Linked DNA regions of Homo sapiens. Each later gene encodes a partner of the first gene's protein in a complex. Links are inferred from orthologs where the notes say so. Each region holds a gene or a part of one and is shown in the gene's direction. Other genes may lie near its edges.

The links. Proteins that work in one complex are often made in the same cells at the same time.
Region 2: the proteins of BBS4 (region 1) and BBIP1 are in contact, whole or in part, in a cryo-EM structure (PDB 6VBV), measured with the Bos taurus proteins. The link is inferred for Homo sapiens from one-to-one orthologs. Residues at the interface, in NP_001069424.1 of Bos taurus: Leu210, Leu213, Tyr236, Leu240, Ala241, Ser244, Gln247, Thr248, Ser269, Pro271, Asn274, Asn275, Met278, Phe281, Gly282, Lys284, Tyr298, Leu299, Pro301, Leu302, Asp303, Trp304, Lys305, Ile306, Tyr308, Asn309, Leu312, Leu315, Thr316, Gln318; in XP_003587939.1 of Bos taurus: Met7, Phe8, Arg9, Glu10, Val11, Leu12, Pro13, Lys14, Gln15, Gly16, Gln17, Leu18, Tyr19, Val20, Glu21, Asp22, Leu28, Lys30, Pro31.

What each region holds. Positions count from the first base shown.
Region 1 is NC_000015.10:72,731,194-72,738,216, forward strand, and holds part of BBS4 (BBSome complex member BBS4), read left to right. Parts: intron 1-111; coding exon 112-264; intron 265-361; coding exon 362-533; intron 534-3,919; coding exon 3,920-3,989; intron 3,990-4,631; coding exon 4,632-4,773; intron 4,774-5,568; coding exon 5,569-5,770; intron 5,771-6,284; coding exon 6,285-6,394; 3' UTR 6,395-7,023.
Region 2 is NC_000010.11:110,916,173-110,923,924, reverse strand, and holds the start of BBIP1 (BBSome-interacting protein 1), read left to right. Parts: upstream 1-4,744; 5' UTR 4,745-4,804; exon of another isoform or gene 4,805-5,389; intron 5,390-5,711; 5' UTR 5,712-5,767; coding exon 5,768-5,804; intron 5,805-7,752.

The sequences.
Region 1 (7,023 bases):
TCCAGTCCCATCTATGCTGATGGGCCTGCTGAGTATAGACTCAGGAAAGCTGCCCCACTGCTACAGCCTTTTGGGAATGACTGAATGACTTTCTCTGTGCCATGTTTTCAGGCCATCTTGGCAGCAGGCAGCATGATGCAGACCCACGGGGACTTTGATGTTGCCCTCACCAAATACAGAGTTGTGGCTTGTGCTGTTCCAGAAAGTCCTCCACTCTGGAATAACATTGGAATGTGTTTCTTTGGCAAGAAGAAATATGTGGCGGTGAGTGTCCCCTCATGTTCTTTGTTTGTATTTCTACATGTGGTTATTGGGTCTGTTTAGCTTGCCCTTCTCATTGAGTGCCCCTTCTCTCTCATAGGCCATCAGCTGCCTGAAACGAGCCAACTACTTGGCACCCTTTGATTGGAAGATTCTGTATAATTTGGGCCTTGTCCATTTGACCATGCAGCAGTATGCATCAGCTTTTCATTTTCTCAGTGCGGCCATCAACTTCCAGCCAAAGATGGGGGAGCTCTACATGCTCTTGGCAGGTAAGAAACATTTATGTGGAAAACTCTCTCTGCCATCTGTAATGAGGGAAAAATGGATTAGAATCATAGAAGATCAGTGGCTGTCTCATAGGAGCCATTCCCTTAGAGATCCTGTAGGAATCTGGATTACTGTCCTGGAGCTTGAAGAAATAGAAAAAGATGACAAAGGAACTTGGTTGTTTCTAACTTGGGGGAGTTTGACTCAGAGACCAACAGGTTAAATAAAGATCATCCCTAGTTCACCTTTTACCAGTTTTTTCCTCTTGCCTTGACAATTCATTTATGTATATATTGAGTCCAACTAAGTTCCAGACAGCAAGTGTTAAGAGCTTGGGTTTTAGGTAGGGTCCTGCCTCTACTACTTATTATATGTACCTAGGGCTGATGTGAGGATTGCATGATTAAGCTCTCAATTAATAATACTGGTTTTGTTGAAATACTGATTTTTGAAAACTGTTGGTTTTACTGTGGTTATATAATTGGTCTATTATTATCAATATTGTTGTTACTATAATTGGCCCCTAGGTGATACTTCCAAGTCAAGCTACCTTATGTTGAAACCCTTATCTCTTCTGAGCATGTTATATAGAATGCCATTCTCTTCCTGAAACTCCATTTTATGCCATGCAAATACTAAAATTGATCATAAAAATAAGTTAAAATTAATCAAACACTTTAACAATTATGCACAACCATTTTAAAGTACTGACTAGTCTTTCTAGGAATTTTTTTCTCCATATACATTTACTTACTAAATGTAAGACCCAAAGCAGATTTCCATGTCCTCATTTGGCAGTCGTCTTCCAGTGGCTTTTTGTTCATTACTGTGGGTTCTTATTTAAAAGAGAAAGCTTGCAAAAGCAATTGTGGTTATTTGAGGGTTGCCTGAATACAAAGATAACTTTAAAAAAAAAACATAGGTTTTATTATTATTCAGATATGGTATGGGCAACAGATCAGAAGACATCTGCCACTGGAAAGATAGTCTGTTACAATTCCTGAGAAGGAGGGCATGCTACACCGTGCAGGGCCACATGGGGAAGCACCAGGTCAATCAGGAGGTAGAGGGAGCAAGGGGTAAATGTGGGCACAATTCTTTATTGTAGTTTTCATGGGTAGAAATGCCCTCCCCGGGGCAAGACCGGGAAAGCAGGTTAACCAGGTTGGGGATTGGCCAGTTTGAATAATTTCAGTGGGCTCTGGGCTATAGGGCTGTCTCTAGGTGTCTGGTACCTGACCCTCGGGTGACTAGGACTAGGGAATATTGGCCCAGTGTCAGGGCCCAGTAAAGGAGGCAGTTAAGAATATGAACACTGGGTTGGTCGGTCTGCATACAGAAGGTACTCTTGTAGGGGTTATATCTAGGAATTAGCTGACTGTGGGAGGGACAGTCTCCCCAGGGTCAGTAAGGCCCCAGATGTCAAAACATCAGAATAAAAAGGCTAAAGTGGGGTGTGATGGTACATACCTGTAGTGCTGGCTACTTGGGAGGCTAAGGCAGGAAGTTTGCTTAAGCCCAGGAGTTGGGAGTACAGCCTGGGCAACACAGTGAGACTCCATTCCTCTCTCTTTTTTTAAAAATTTTATTTTAGGTTCAGGGGTACATGTGCATCCTGTTACACAGGCACGTGTGTCATGGGGATTAGTTGTACAGATTATTTCATCACCCAGGTACTAAGCCTAGTACCCAATAGTTATTTTTTTCTGGCCCTCCCCCTCCTCCAGTAAGCTCCAGTGTCTGTTTCCCTCTGTGTCTCCATGTGTTCTCATCATTTAGCTCTTATAGTGAGAACATGCAGGATTTGGTTTTCTATCCTTTATTAATTTGCTAAGGATGGTGGCCTCCAGCTCCATCTATGTTGCTGCAAAGGACACGATCTTGTTCTTTTGTATGGCTGTGTCGTATTCCATGGTGTACATTTACATTTTGTTTATCCAGTCTACCATTGATGGGCATTTAGGTTGATTTCACATCTTTGCTATTGTGAATAGTGCTGCATTGAACACACACATGCATGTGTCTTTATGGCAGAACGATTTACATTCCTTTGGGCATATACCCAGTAATGGGATTGCTGGGTCGAAGGGTAGTTGTATTTTTAGCTCTTTGGGGAATTGCCAGATTGCTTTCCACAATGGTTGAACTAATTTACACTCCCATCAACAGTGTATAAGCATTCCCTTTTCTCTGCAGCCTCACCAGGATGTTATATTTTGAGTTTTTAATAATAGCCATTTTGACTGGTGTGAGATGGTTATCTCACTGTGGTTTCAATTTGCATTTCTCTAATCAGTGATAGAGTTTTTCATATGCTTGTTGGCTGCATACATGACTTCTTTTGAAGTGTCTGTTTATGTCCTTTGCCCATTTTAATGGGATTGTATTCTTCTTGTAAATTTGCTTAAGTTCCTTATAGATCCTGGATATTAGACCTGCATGGTTTGCAAATATTTTCTCCCATTTTGTACATTGTCTGTTTACTGTGTTGATAGTTTCTTTAGATAGCTGGGTTCTAATGGAACACAGAAATGTAAACAGCCATAATGTAAGAGATAACAGCGATGCTAACTTTACAAAGTAGAGATGGCATTCAAACTGGATCCTGAACAACAAGCTAAAATGGAATAGCACAGAATGGCTGAGGAGCCACTGTGAAGAAAGGCATGCAGCCATGAAACTGCAGTGTCCCTTGCTGTTAGTGGGGGTTAGTGTTAGAGAATATGATGGGAGATGAATCAGGAAAGATATTCTGGGGTCAGATTATGGAGGTCATGCGTACAGTGCAAGGACTTTATCTTAGAGGCCATGTTTGTCCAGCTGTCTTCCTAGATCTCCTCTTAGGTGCCTGGTAGGAGTGAGTGCATAGCTGGTGGGGAGGTGGAATGGGCAGGGCTTCCAGAGCAGCTGTTTTTGTTTTATATATTAGGTGTCAAGGAAATACTGATTTTAAAAAGTGGGGGGAGTGTTTTACTGCTAAATGAAAGTGTAAAGATCATGGTTATAGATGTGGGGGGCCAGTGAGGATTCCTAAGTAGGATGGTAATGTGGTCAGATTTGTAAGGCAGTGAGATACCTGGCAGCGCTGTGGAAGGTGGAATGGAGGCAGGTGGGGACTTTGACACTGGGGAATAAATGGAAAGCCTAAAACTACTTGGGCCTGAACAAGGGCAGTGTCAGAAAAGAAACTGCAAAAAAAGGATGCATAGAACCTGGCAACTGATTGACTGTAGAAGAGATGGTTGAAGATAGCACCAGGTATCTAAGCTGACTTAGTAAACTCTGGTGCCATGAGCTGACAGGGTGAAGTTTACTTTGGGGGTAGTCTTTAATACTCCTTTTGTCTTCTAAGCTGAGCTCTCCAGCTGCAGTGCTTTCTTTGTTGCAGTGGCTCTGACCAATCTGGAAGATATAGAAAATGCCAAGAGAGCCTACGCAGAAGCAGTCCACCTGGATAAGTATGCACTTTGTTGAGAATGGTACTGGCGGGGGTTGGACTCTCCAAAGCCATGAGGTGGTGCCATACATAGCATTGGTGCTGCCTGTGTCAGCCCAGCTGTTCCTCTATGGCATTAGTACATAGCAGACCTCAGTGTGGAGGGATGTGTCTCCTAAGTATGTGGTGGCTCAGCAGGAATTGACACTCTGAGAAAATGTTTCCAGTCCTAAACTGAGTAATCAGGAGGCTAGAGAATGTCAGAACTGGCAGTGGGCTTGGGTTGCTGATAGCTATGGGCTAGCTGGAATATCAGATGGGACTCTGGGCTGTTTAATTCAAGATAAAACTTGACTCTTCCAGGATTTACTCCGCTGGCATCTTCTAGACAGCAGGGTAGAGATCCCTTTTTCAACCCTGGCCTAGGTAGTCTCTGTTGAGGGCTGAGATGCCAGATTTGGTCCCAATACCAGCTTTGCTTGTTAGGCCATTAACTCCTTGATTCTTCTCCACAGGTCTGCTTAGCACGTATGTACCTACCTTGCTGCATAATGGAGAAATCTCTACTTAACCAGTTTTGTTTTGTTTTTGTGTAATGAGAAGGATCTCTAAATGACCATTTGTTGCAGAGCCCCCAGCTCCATAGAATCTCTGTCTGCCACAGGTGTAACCCTTTAGTAAACCTGAACTATGCTGTGCTGCTGTACAACCAGGGCGAGAAGAAGAACGCCCTGGCCCAATATCAGGAGATGGAGAAGAAAGTCAGCCTACTCAAGGACAATAGCTCTCTGGAATTTGACTCTGAGGTATGTCTTTTATTAGCTCCCAAGAGTCATAAGTAAGCTCTCAGGAGACTTTTAAAAATCAAGCCCAGATCATCCAAATCCAAGGTATTACACGTTCATGGCTGTTCTGGCTTTGATGTTCCTAGCAGCATGAGTTCATCAATTAATAACAGCCTGAGAAAAACTTTCCTAGAATAATAATAAAAGGAAATTCAGGCTTACTGAGTTGTTATTGCTAATTCAACTCATCAAAGTTGAGGTCTGTGTCTGTCTGTAGCTTCCTTCTATTTCACTTTTTTTTTTTTTTTTTTTTTGAGACGGAATCTCGCTCTGTTGCCCAGGCTGGAGTGCAATGGCGCAATCTCAGTTCACTGCAACCTCCGCCTCCTGGGTTCAAGCAATTCTCCTGCCTCAGCCTTCCAAGTAGCTGGGACTACAGGCGCGTGCCACCACGCCCAGCTAATTTTTGTATTTTTAGTAGAGACGGGGTTTCACCATGTTGGCCAGGATGGTCTTGATCTCTTGACCTCGTGATCCACGTGCCCAGCCCTATTTCACTTGTTGTAGGAAATGCACTGTTTGGCCCGGTAATGCACCAGGCTTGAATTGTTGGGTTTTGAGATCCTATGTGAACCACCATGCCATCCAGTAAAGGCAATCTGTAATCTCTACTGTTTGATAAGTACTTCCTGCCTCAACTGCTAGTACGACCAGACACTATTTCAGCTAAAACCCCAGCTCGAAGACCAAAGAAGTGGGTTGGCTTGTCTCTGACAGTCACGCTTTTGATTCTTTTACTTCCTTTGTGGACACAAGATGGTGGAGATGGCTCAGAAGTTGGGAGCTGCTCTCCAGGTTGGGGAGGCACTGGTCTGGACCAAACCAGTTAAAGATCCCAAATCAAAGCACCAGACCACTTCAACCAGCAAACCTGCCAGTTTCCAGCAGCCTCTGGGCTCTAATCAAGCTCTAGGACAGGCAATGTCTTCAGCAGCTGCATACAGGACGCTCCCCTCAGGTAGGACCATACAGAGCTCCATGAAGACCTGGCAGGTACAAGCCACATGTGTCTGTCAGCAGAGATTATAGCTTTCAGTGAGGTTCTCTTCAGACTCATATGTCCAACGTAGTATTGGCCACAAGGGGAGAAAAAAAACACAGGGTGGCTAAATTGGCACTTGTTTCCTTAAGGCGAGCTATGTAGTAGGTAACAGCTACTCACAGACTTAGTTGGATGGTCTATACACTGGTCTTTCCAATTTTAGCAATATGTTATTAAGTATATCCTGTTATGCAATGTTTAATTTTTACTGCTTTATCAGAAGTTGACACGTAAATATTTTTCAGTGACTCATTGAAGGCAAACTTGACTGTTGCTTTATTTCTCAGTTATAGTCTTCCCTTATAGTTAATGGGTCAGTCCCACTGGTTCCAGAAAATATGGGGTTTCCTCTTGAACTCTAACAGCAAAAAAGAATGATTTCTTCTGAAATTGTGGAACATGAGGATTCAAGTTTTTATTTTGTTACTAGGTGCTGGAGGAACATCCCAGTTCACAAAGCCCCCATCTCTTCCTCTGGAGCCAGAGCCTGCGGTGGAATCAAGTCCAACTGAAACATCAGAACAAATAAGAGAGAAATAAGAATAGAATGAATGACCCCAAAATAGGGTTTTCTTGGGCGAGGATGTGCTGGATTAGGAAAGGTGACATGACACAGGCAGAGCAGAGTGGCACCCACCACAGAATACAGTGTGTGTTATTACGAGGAGCCAGCAGTTGAGCCTAAGGTCCTTCTACCTACCTGGTATTGGCATTTGAGGTCGGAAACCCTCTACTGCCCCATAAGCCAGGAAAAGTGAAAAGAGAACACAGTTCCTTTAAGAACTGGCAGCAAGGCTTGAGGCCTTATGTATGTAGCTGAGTCAGCAAGGTACATGATGCTGTCTGCTTTCAAAAGGACTTTTCTCTCCTAGCTGACTGACTCCTTCCTTAGTTCAAGGAACAGCTGAGACAGACCTCTGCTGAGTAGCTCTGTGATGACAAAGCCTTGGTTTAACTGAGGTGATCCTCAGGTTGTGAGGTTTATTAGTCCCCAAGGCAAACACAAATATTAGATTAATAATCCAACTTTAATAGTATACATTTAAAAGAAAAAAAACAAAAGCCCTGGAAGTTGAGGCCAAGCCTGCTGAGTATTGCAGCTGCATTTGCCCAAAGGGAATCCAGAACAAGTCCCTCCCTGTATTTTGTTCTTGAGAGGGGTCAGTCTA
Region 2 (7,752 bases), on another chromosome or scaffold:
GAAAAAAATATTTATCTTTGTCAGCTGTAAAATTACTTAAAATTATAGGACTTTTAAATAGTAATTGAGGGCAAATAAAGTATTTAAACGTTAGAAGTCTTCCTAGTGCTATCAACAAAAGATAGTCATGCACAAATAATTTATAAAAATATGTCAGGTTCATTTCACATAGGGACCAATTATACCCCTTTTTAAGGTCTCCTGTAATGTTTTAGCTACAAGCAGTATGTTCACTCTTTCTCATAAATGAATCCTTACATTTTAGAGCATGTACTACTTTTTGCAATCAGTTCTGACCTTTAGAGAAGTTGGAATGAGATATACAGTGTGAAAATGAATTAGTGTTCTTTTAAATCTTGATAATGGGAACTGCATGCTTTCTCAAGAAGCACATACACTACCATTATCTCAAAAGCTTAAGGATCATTGGTAATTAAAATATCCTTTTGCGTGTATAAACTCTGCTTTGCTGAATTAAAGATGCTGTGTTAAAAAGTTGAGACCCGGGGGAAAATACCAAACAAAACCAGAATGAACATTAATTTATATTAAAATAATTCAATTATATATTTTAGAACATAAAAGTTTCTCAGACTTATGTTTCAATCTGTAATGATTAACAAACACTTTTAAGAACACTCTATAATATATGAAGTTCAAGCATACCATAGGTCATCTGTAATTCAGAAATTATTCAGATTTTAAAAGTCAGTTTACACAGTCGGAAAATATAAAAATTTAATATATTAAGAGAAAATATTTCAAAAAAGATCTACAGGGCACAACTTTGATGCAGTGTAACAAGTAAATGAAACAAAATTCAGAAGGCCAAGCAGTTAAAATAGGGGATTACAAGGATAGCAGATGATATATGTCCATTAATTAGTCTAAGATTCAGCCAACTTATATGTCTAATGCACAACACATAATGCATGAAATACAGGTCTACCAACAAGCAAAAATACCAACTCACTTAATATTTGAAGTACTCATTTAAGTATCACATAAAAGTACTTAATGTATAATTCTACTGATAAATTACAGTTTCCATTTATTCATCTATAGCAAAATACCAATCCCTACTAGTCTCATTAAGAAATGTCAAAATATCCAATTTATATTTAAATTTCCTCTGTTAATTGATATTTTATAAACGAGTAGCAAAATTCTTCCAAGTCTAAGTTATAAATCTCAGAACTCACTGAAGGATTTGTGAGTTAACTTGTTTTGTTGTTTTTTATTGTTTGGGGTTTTTTAAAATCTTATTTTGTTATAAGCATTAATCTTAAGGCTTTTTCATACATGAAAGATACATGAATCATATAGTAAACCAAATTCTAAAGATACATTTCACTTAATCTTCAGCCTCCAAAAATATGCATCCTTATATCTACATATAGAGTTTGTATCTTTTAGTTAAAACACAGATTTCTGTATTTAAATATTTTTACAAAAAAATCAAAATATCTGAAGTTTAAAGAAGTCTTCCAGAAATATTAAATGATACAACAAATATTGAAAATGAGCATATTTTTAAGGCAAATATAACTATAATTTATCCACCTGTATAATAAAGAATTTCAAGTTTATTCACCCATCCTCCATAATTCATACAGGTAAGCCAAAGCAATAACTATACCAATCACTACTCGGAAGCCATCTTTGGAAACATTCCACATAGAATTCCAGTTTATGTCTCTCTGATGTGGAAAGAGAAAAGTCATTCTTCCCTGACCCAAGTCACAGAAAAAAGAGTAACATTTTAAAGGCGTAATTCCAGCAAGTGTGACAAAGGAATTTGTAATTTTCATGTTTCTATTTAAACATGAAATGTTTCAAATTTCCAACTGGCTTGTAGTTCAGAAGTTGATGCATGACCTTTTACTTGCTACAACTACCAGAAAAACAGCTCTGATGAACTTTCTGAATACGGTAGTTTAAAAACTAAAAAAAAAAGATCTAGCTGCAAACTATTAATGTATATTTTAATATCACTCTTTAATCCATAATAATTTATGAGAAAATTTTTTGAACTTAAAAATTATATTAATAATGAGCGATCAGAAAACAAATGTCAACTTTTAATGTAGCTGTTTCCTCAAAAACTGAAGGGGGAATGTGGGGATGGTTAATGGATATAAAAAAACAGAATGAATACGATCCAGTATTTCATAGCACAACAGGGTGACCATACTCAATAAATTTAATTGCACATTTTAAAATAACTAAGAGTATAATTGGATATTTGTATCACAAAGGGTAGATGCTTGAGATGATGGGATACCTCATTTACTCTAATGTGACTATTATGCATTGTATGCCTGTATCAATATCTCATATAACCCATAAAAACCTACTATGTACCCATAACAATTAAAAACTAAAAATAAAACTGAACAAGCACCTTGGGAAAATGCAGTACCCTTAAAGACATGTCCATAATTTGAAACTGGGATTTCAATATTGTTTTATATGTTGGCTTTATATTAAATTTCAGACATTTGAAAGTTACAAACCTTAGACAAAACTTTTATTCAGTTTTGTGTTTATTTTTGTCTATTTTTCAAATGTGTATTTATAATTACATAAAAAGTTTACAATATACTTTATGTCCAAATAAAGACAAAAGGCTTATCATACTCAGTCTAAGTTCCATATGTGGCGAATGGTCATTTGCATACTTTATTCCTAAAATTCTTTTCACTGTCACACAGCAAAACATCAACACTTGATAAATTCAAATTATAAATATAACCTTACTGAATGTTACAAATTGGATGCAATAGCTAAGTCTCTTCAAGTACACAGTAACAGTTCTACAGTCCACAGCATGGAGGATGAGGGTAAAGATTAGTAAGTACACTAATAAATTGAGGTCTTTAAAATTAAAACTATTTTTCAGTGGTGTTGCTGCATTTAGTTACAAAAACACTTGGTTACACAAATGTACCTTAGGATTCTGAAAACCGTAACAAAAAGCTTTTGATATAGTAGTCCCTCTTGAGTAGAAACTAGACGCACTCGGTATCTAAGAAAAGTATACGAAATGGCACAGGTGTAAGCCTAGACACTGCTGGTAGTTATCACGCTGGAGGCAAATACTATACAGTCCACATCTGCAACCTAATTTTGCTTCAGCATCCCCAGAGACTTCGAAAATATTTCTTTGGGTAGGTTGCAAAACAGTGCTTCCTCTTTTATTCTCATCACCCCCATTACGATACAAAGCAACAGACAAGAAAAATCAAACTGCCAACTGTAAGGGCTTAAACACACACACAAAGCATCTTCTTTCTAGCTCCCGAATCGGTATTTATTCCACCTGTTTGTAAATCCATAATTCCACAATAACACAAACTGCCTGCTTAAAGAAAGGAAGGAAGAAAAGAAAAAGAAAGAAAAGAAATAAAGAGAAAGGCAAGTTAATGCTTTGGAGTCATTACTCTTCCACCTAGGCATGGGGGGAGGGGGATGGTACAAAAACAATGGATATTGAGGTGCTGGGGGAAAAATCGTCTTGCCCCAAAGCCTCTTGTGTTATGAGCCTGGGGAAGTCGGGGAAGAGTGAGACTACTTTTCCTCTCTCCCTAAAAGCTGTGCTATCACGGGGAGAGGTTGCCATCGGGCATGTTCTACGAGGCGGTCTCGAAGGGCTACAACTCGCTTCGCTAGGCAACACACCCAGAGCCGATCCAGCACTCTTCACTCAAGGGTTTTTAGGGAGAGGAGAACGGGAGAGCAAGGTGGACTCCAGGGAGGGGGCGAGAAGAGACCCCACCCTGTATGACCGCCGCTGCGCCCGGGCCCTCGCCAACGATTTACACGACTCGGGGCGCCCTGCGGACTGGGCCCGGGGGCCCAGGGAGCCGAGAGGAGAGAGACTGTCCGCCGGGGGCCCCCGGCCCGCGCCCTCGCGCCGGCTCGCCGTCGCCCAGGCGCTGTCCGGGCCGCCCGCCGCCGCCGCCGCAGGCCCGGCCCCGGCCGCTGTCACACCCGACCGCCTTCCTCTCCGCGCCGGGCTGCAGGCTCCCACGCGAGCCGGCTCCAAGGGCCCCGCACTCCCGGAGACAGCAACCAGGAAAGCGGCGGCGGCGGCGCCTCCCAGGGCCCCGGCCCCTCGGGCCTCGCCCCGGCGCTGCCGGCTCGCGCCTGTCAGGGCGCACGGGGCCTCCCCCTACCGACAGCCAGCCCGACTGCCCGACGGACAGGAAGGCAGGCAGGAAGAACCGACCAACAGACACCCTCCGCCTCATCGGCCCCGAGTTACCGTCAGGAGCCCCGACTCCGCCATCCTCCTCGCTCGCCCTCCTTCCTCCTCTTCCTCCTCCTCCTAAGAAGCGACGCTGCCCAACCGCCGCCCCCCGCCCGCCCCTCCCCCACTCGCCCCGCCCCGCCCGCCCCGCCACTACTCTCGCTCCAGCCTCCCCGCCCCACCCCTCTGCCGTGGGCCCGTCACTCGCTAGGCAAGAAAAATGGGCGGAACCGGGGCAAGAGAAGCTGCCCAATCAGAGACGGGCAGTGCCGCCAGCTTCTCTCTCTCCGCCCTTGTCCTTTCCTCAGTTCCTCTACGCCGTCTCCCGCCCACTGGGCGCCTCTGGCTAGCCGGGCTACAGAGTAAGCCTCCAGCAGGGTAGAGTGACAACTCCCCGATCGGAAGTTACTGTTGAAGCTAAGGCGGCCATAACTGATAATGGCAAAAGGAGATTCCTGGCTTCCTGTTTCCAGGGTGACGTAGATTTTTTTCCTTCGCCAGTCTCACCGTTACCCGGGGCAACAGCTGAGCCGTCTGGGAAGGGATGCATCTGTAAGTAAGCCCAAAGAGGTACCGTGGGTGACCACACATCCCATGTTAGACAAGTTAATTCATACTCCGGATTACACGTCCAGTTTCCTGGCCCTTATTTTACTGAGACGTCTGGTCACTTACGGAGATGGACAACAGTTTAGGGCTCCGAAATTCCCTCTCCTGCCCGGAAGTTGCATTTGGCACTTCCGAATTGGGTCATGGCGGAAGGGTGTTAATAGCCTGGCCGCCCGTGCCCCAGGGAATGCTTATTTTTGACCTTAGTTGCAAAGTGAGGTGAGTCCGTGGACCCCAACCAGTGGGCCGGACCCGGGCCGGACGGTCCCTGTGGGACAGAGCGCTGAAATGGCGAGCGGGGCTCAGGGCCGCTTCCGTTGGAAGGCGGTTTTTTTCCGGGCTGGCCTGGCGGCGGCCCGCCCCCGTGAGGCTCCCTGTGGGGTGAGGCCGCTCTACAGGCCGCCCTAACCCAGCCAGAGGCAGCCCGGCCGGGAGGACCCCAGCGGGGAATGGGCGGGGACCTCGGGGCGGAGCTCCTAACTCCGGCAAAACGGAGCTCTTGACCACGCCTCCGCAAGTTCCTATTAAGTACTTTCACTCCTTGGCCTTTGGAGGGAGGAGAATTCGGGAACTTCAGAAAATCATTTTCCACCTTCACCTATAAAAGGAAAAGATGAGCCCCTACCACCAGGGCAGGACCTCAATCTTTTTCCCCTGCCACCTGCCTTCCCATTCTGATTTTTCCCCCCTTTCCGCGTCTCTCCTTTGAGTCTTTGTAAGCTTTGACTGCGGTTCTGGTGGTGGGATTCCTGCAGGTCTACAGTTTCTTAAACAACGTGTTGAAGATTTTTGAAAATACTGTATTGCTTTTATATGGCCCTTTACAAAGTTATCATACATTATCTTGTAGTTTCTTCTGTATGCTTGAGTCAAGAACTCTAAGTCATCTTGGTAATACCGGGTTGGATGCTTAAAGCTGCAGCAAAAAGACCAGAACTTTCAGGTAAAATTGAAAATGGTTAATATCCAGCCAGTCAACAATACAGATGCAAACCTACCTTCTCGACTTAATTTCTGCTTCCTTAGTACTTACACGCCAGCCAAAATGAACTACTCTTGTTTCTTTGCTGTTAATTACTGAAATCTGTTGTAGCAGTCACCTTTTGTGATTCTGTATCTGATTCTGTTACCCGTGGAGATGTGTTTCCAGATTCTTCCCAGCAGGAAGTAATTTCCTCTGAGTTTAGCATTTTTTGTACATCTTTTATGACAATCAGTATGTTATATATATATAATAGCGCTTATGTTTTTAGCTTCACTACCATGTCTGCACCTAAATAGAATGGTTTGTATCAGATTCGTCTTCCCGTCATTTTCACCATGCACATGATATTATTTTGGTAAATACTTACTGAAAGTTTGAATATATCGGGTGTCTCTTGGATGCCCAAGACACTTCCAGCCAAGTTTTAGAGACCTTCAATTTATCAGAAATTCAGCTGAGCGCCTGCTACTCAATCTTTGTTTTACGTTTCCCCTGTGAAGTCTTTCTGACATGATTTTTTTCCCCAGTGTTTTATTATGAAAGTGTTCATATATTTAAAAGCTGAAAGAAATAATTTAATGAATATTCATGTACCCATCATCTATATGCAGCAGTTAACATTTTGCCATTTTTTTTCATTCCTCCCCACTTTTTCATTGTCATAAAAAGTTGCAGACACTTATTGTTAGGCAAGACACCCTTAAGATTTCCAGCATGAATTTCCTAAGAATTTTGAAGTTCTCCAGCAAAACACAATATCATTATTTCAGCTGTTTTGTAACTTTTAAAATCTAGGCCAAGTGCTAATTTTCCTAATTTACCCAGGAATATCTTTTATACCTTCTCCTTCCCAATCCTGCAAAAAAAAAAAAAAAAAAAAAAAATCAGGATCCAGTCAAAATTTTTCTTTAGCTTTAATGTAGTAGAGTTCCCCCATCTTTTTTCCCCCTGTGACATTGGCATTTTGAAGAGTTCAAGGCAGGAGTCTTTTTGGAAATGGGCCCCTCTTTTTTCTTCTTGTAAACCAGAAGTTAGTCTAGAGGCTTAAGCTGAACATTTTTTTTGCAAGGATATGTCACAGTATTCACACTTTTCTAGTCATGACTAAGCCTTCTCAAACGCAGCTATACGCACTTTGCCGTGAGTTGCTGGTTAAATCCATCTCACTTCTTAGCATGCTTACCCCTCTCCAGTGTCCTACAAAGAAGAGGGTAGCATTTAATCCTGTGTGTATAGAGTATGTGTTAGTGCCTTGGGTTGGCAACATTGACTACCTTTAATAAAGTGTTGCTGCTACTTTGCCTATTCTTGGAGCTGATGCAATGACTTTCTGCAGTAAAGTGTACTGATGTCAGCATAGTTTATGAGTGTCAACTCCTGGCACCCTGCAGACATTGTTGAAAGATGTGTGGGCCCTGCAATTCAAATACAGATGAATCTTGATGTTATCAAAGCAAATACCAAGGCAACTGTTGGCCATCTGGTCACATTCCAATTTAGGCAATGTTATTTTTCTCACTGAAATTCTCATGCAAGTCTTAATTGGTCCTGGTGTTTTTATGATAGCTTTTTGGTAGCATTAAGCAGAGCCTATTAAAAATTGCAAAATCAAGATTATACTTAACACTTAGTACACTAGATACGTTCTCTGCCCAATGGATAGAGAAGTGTTTGTGGAATTTACTTCCTAATCACAAAGGGAAAACTCAAGACTGCCAACGTCGTATACTCCTCCTAGCCTAGACTTATATTTGATCATGAAAGATAAGTGAAAGGAAAAAACTGCACATAAGGGAGCAGAAGAAAATGCTCTGGGAGGACAGAATTTTTTAGATTGGTATAGAATGTTTTTAGCCATCATATTGAAAATTACATAGTGCATTCTGTTAGTTGCTTCCTTTGTGTA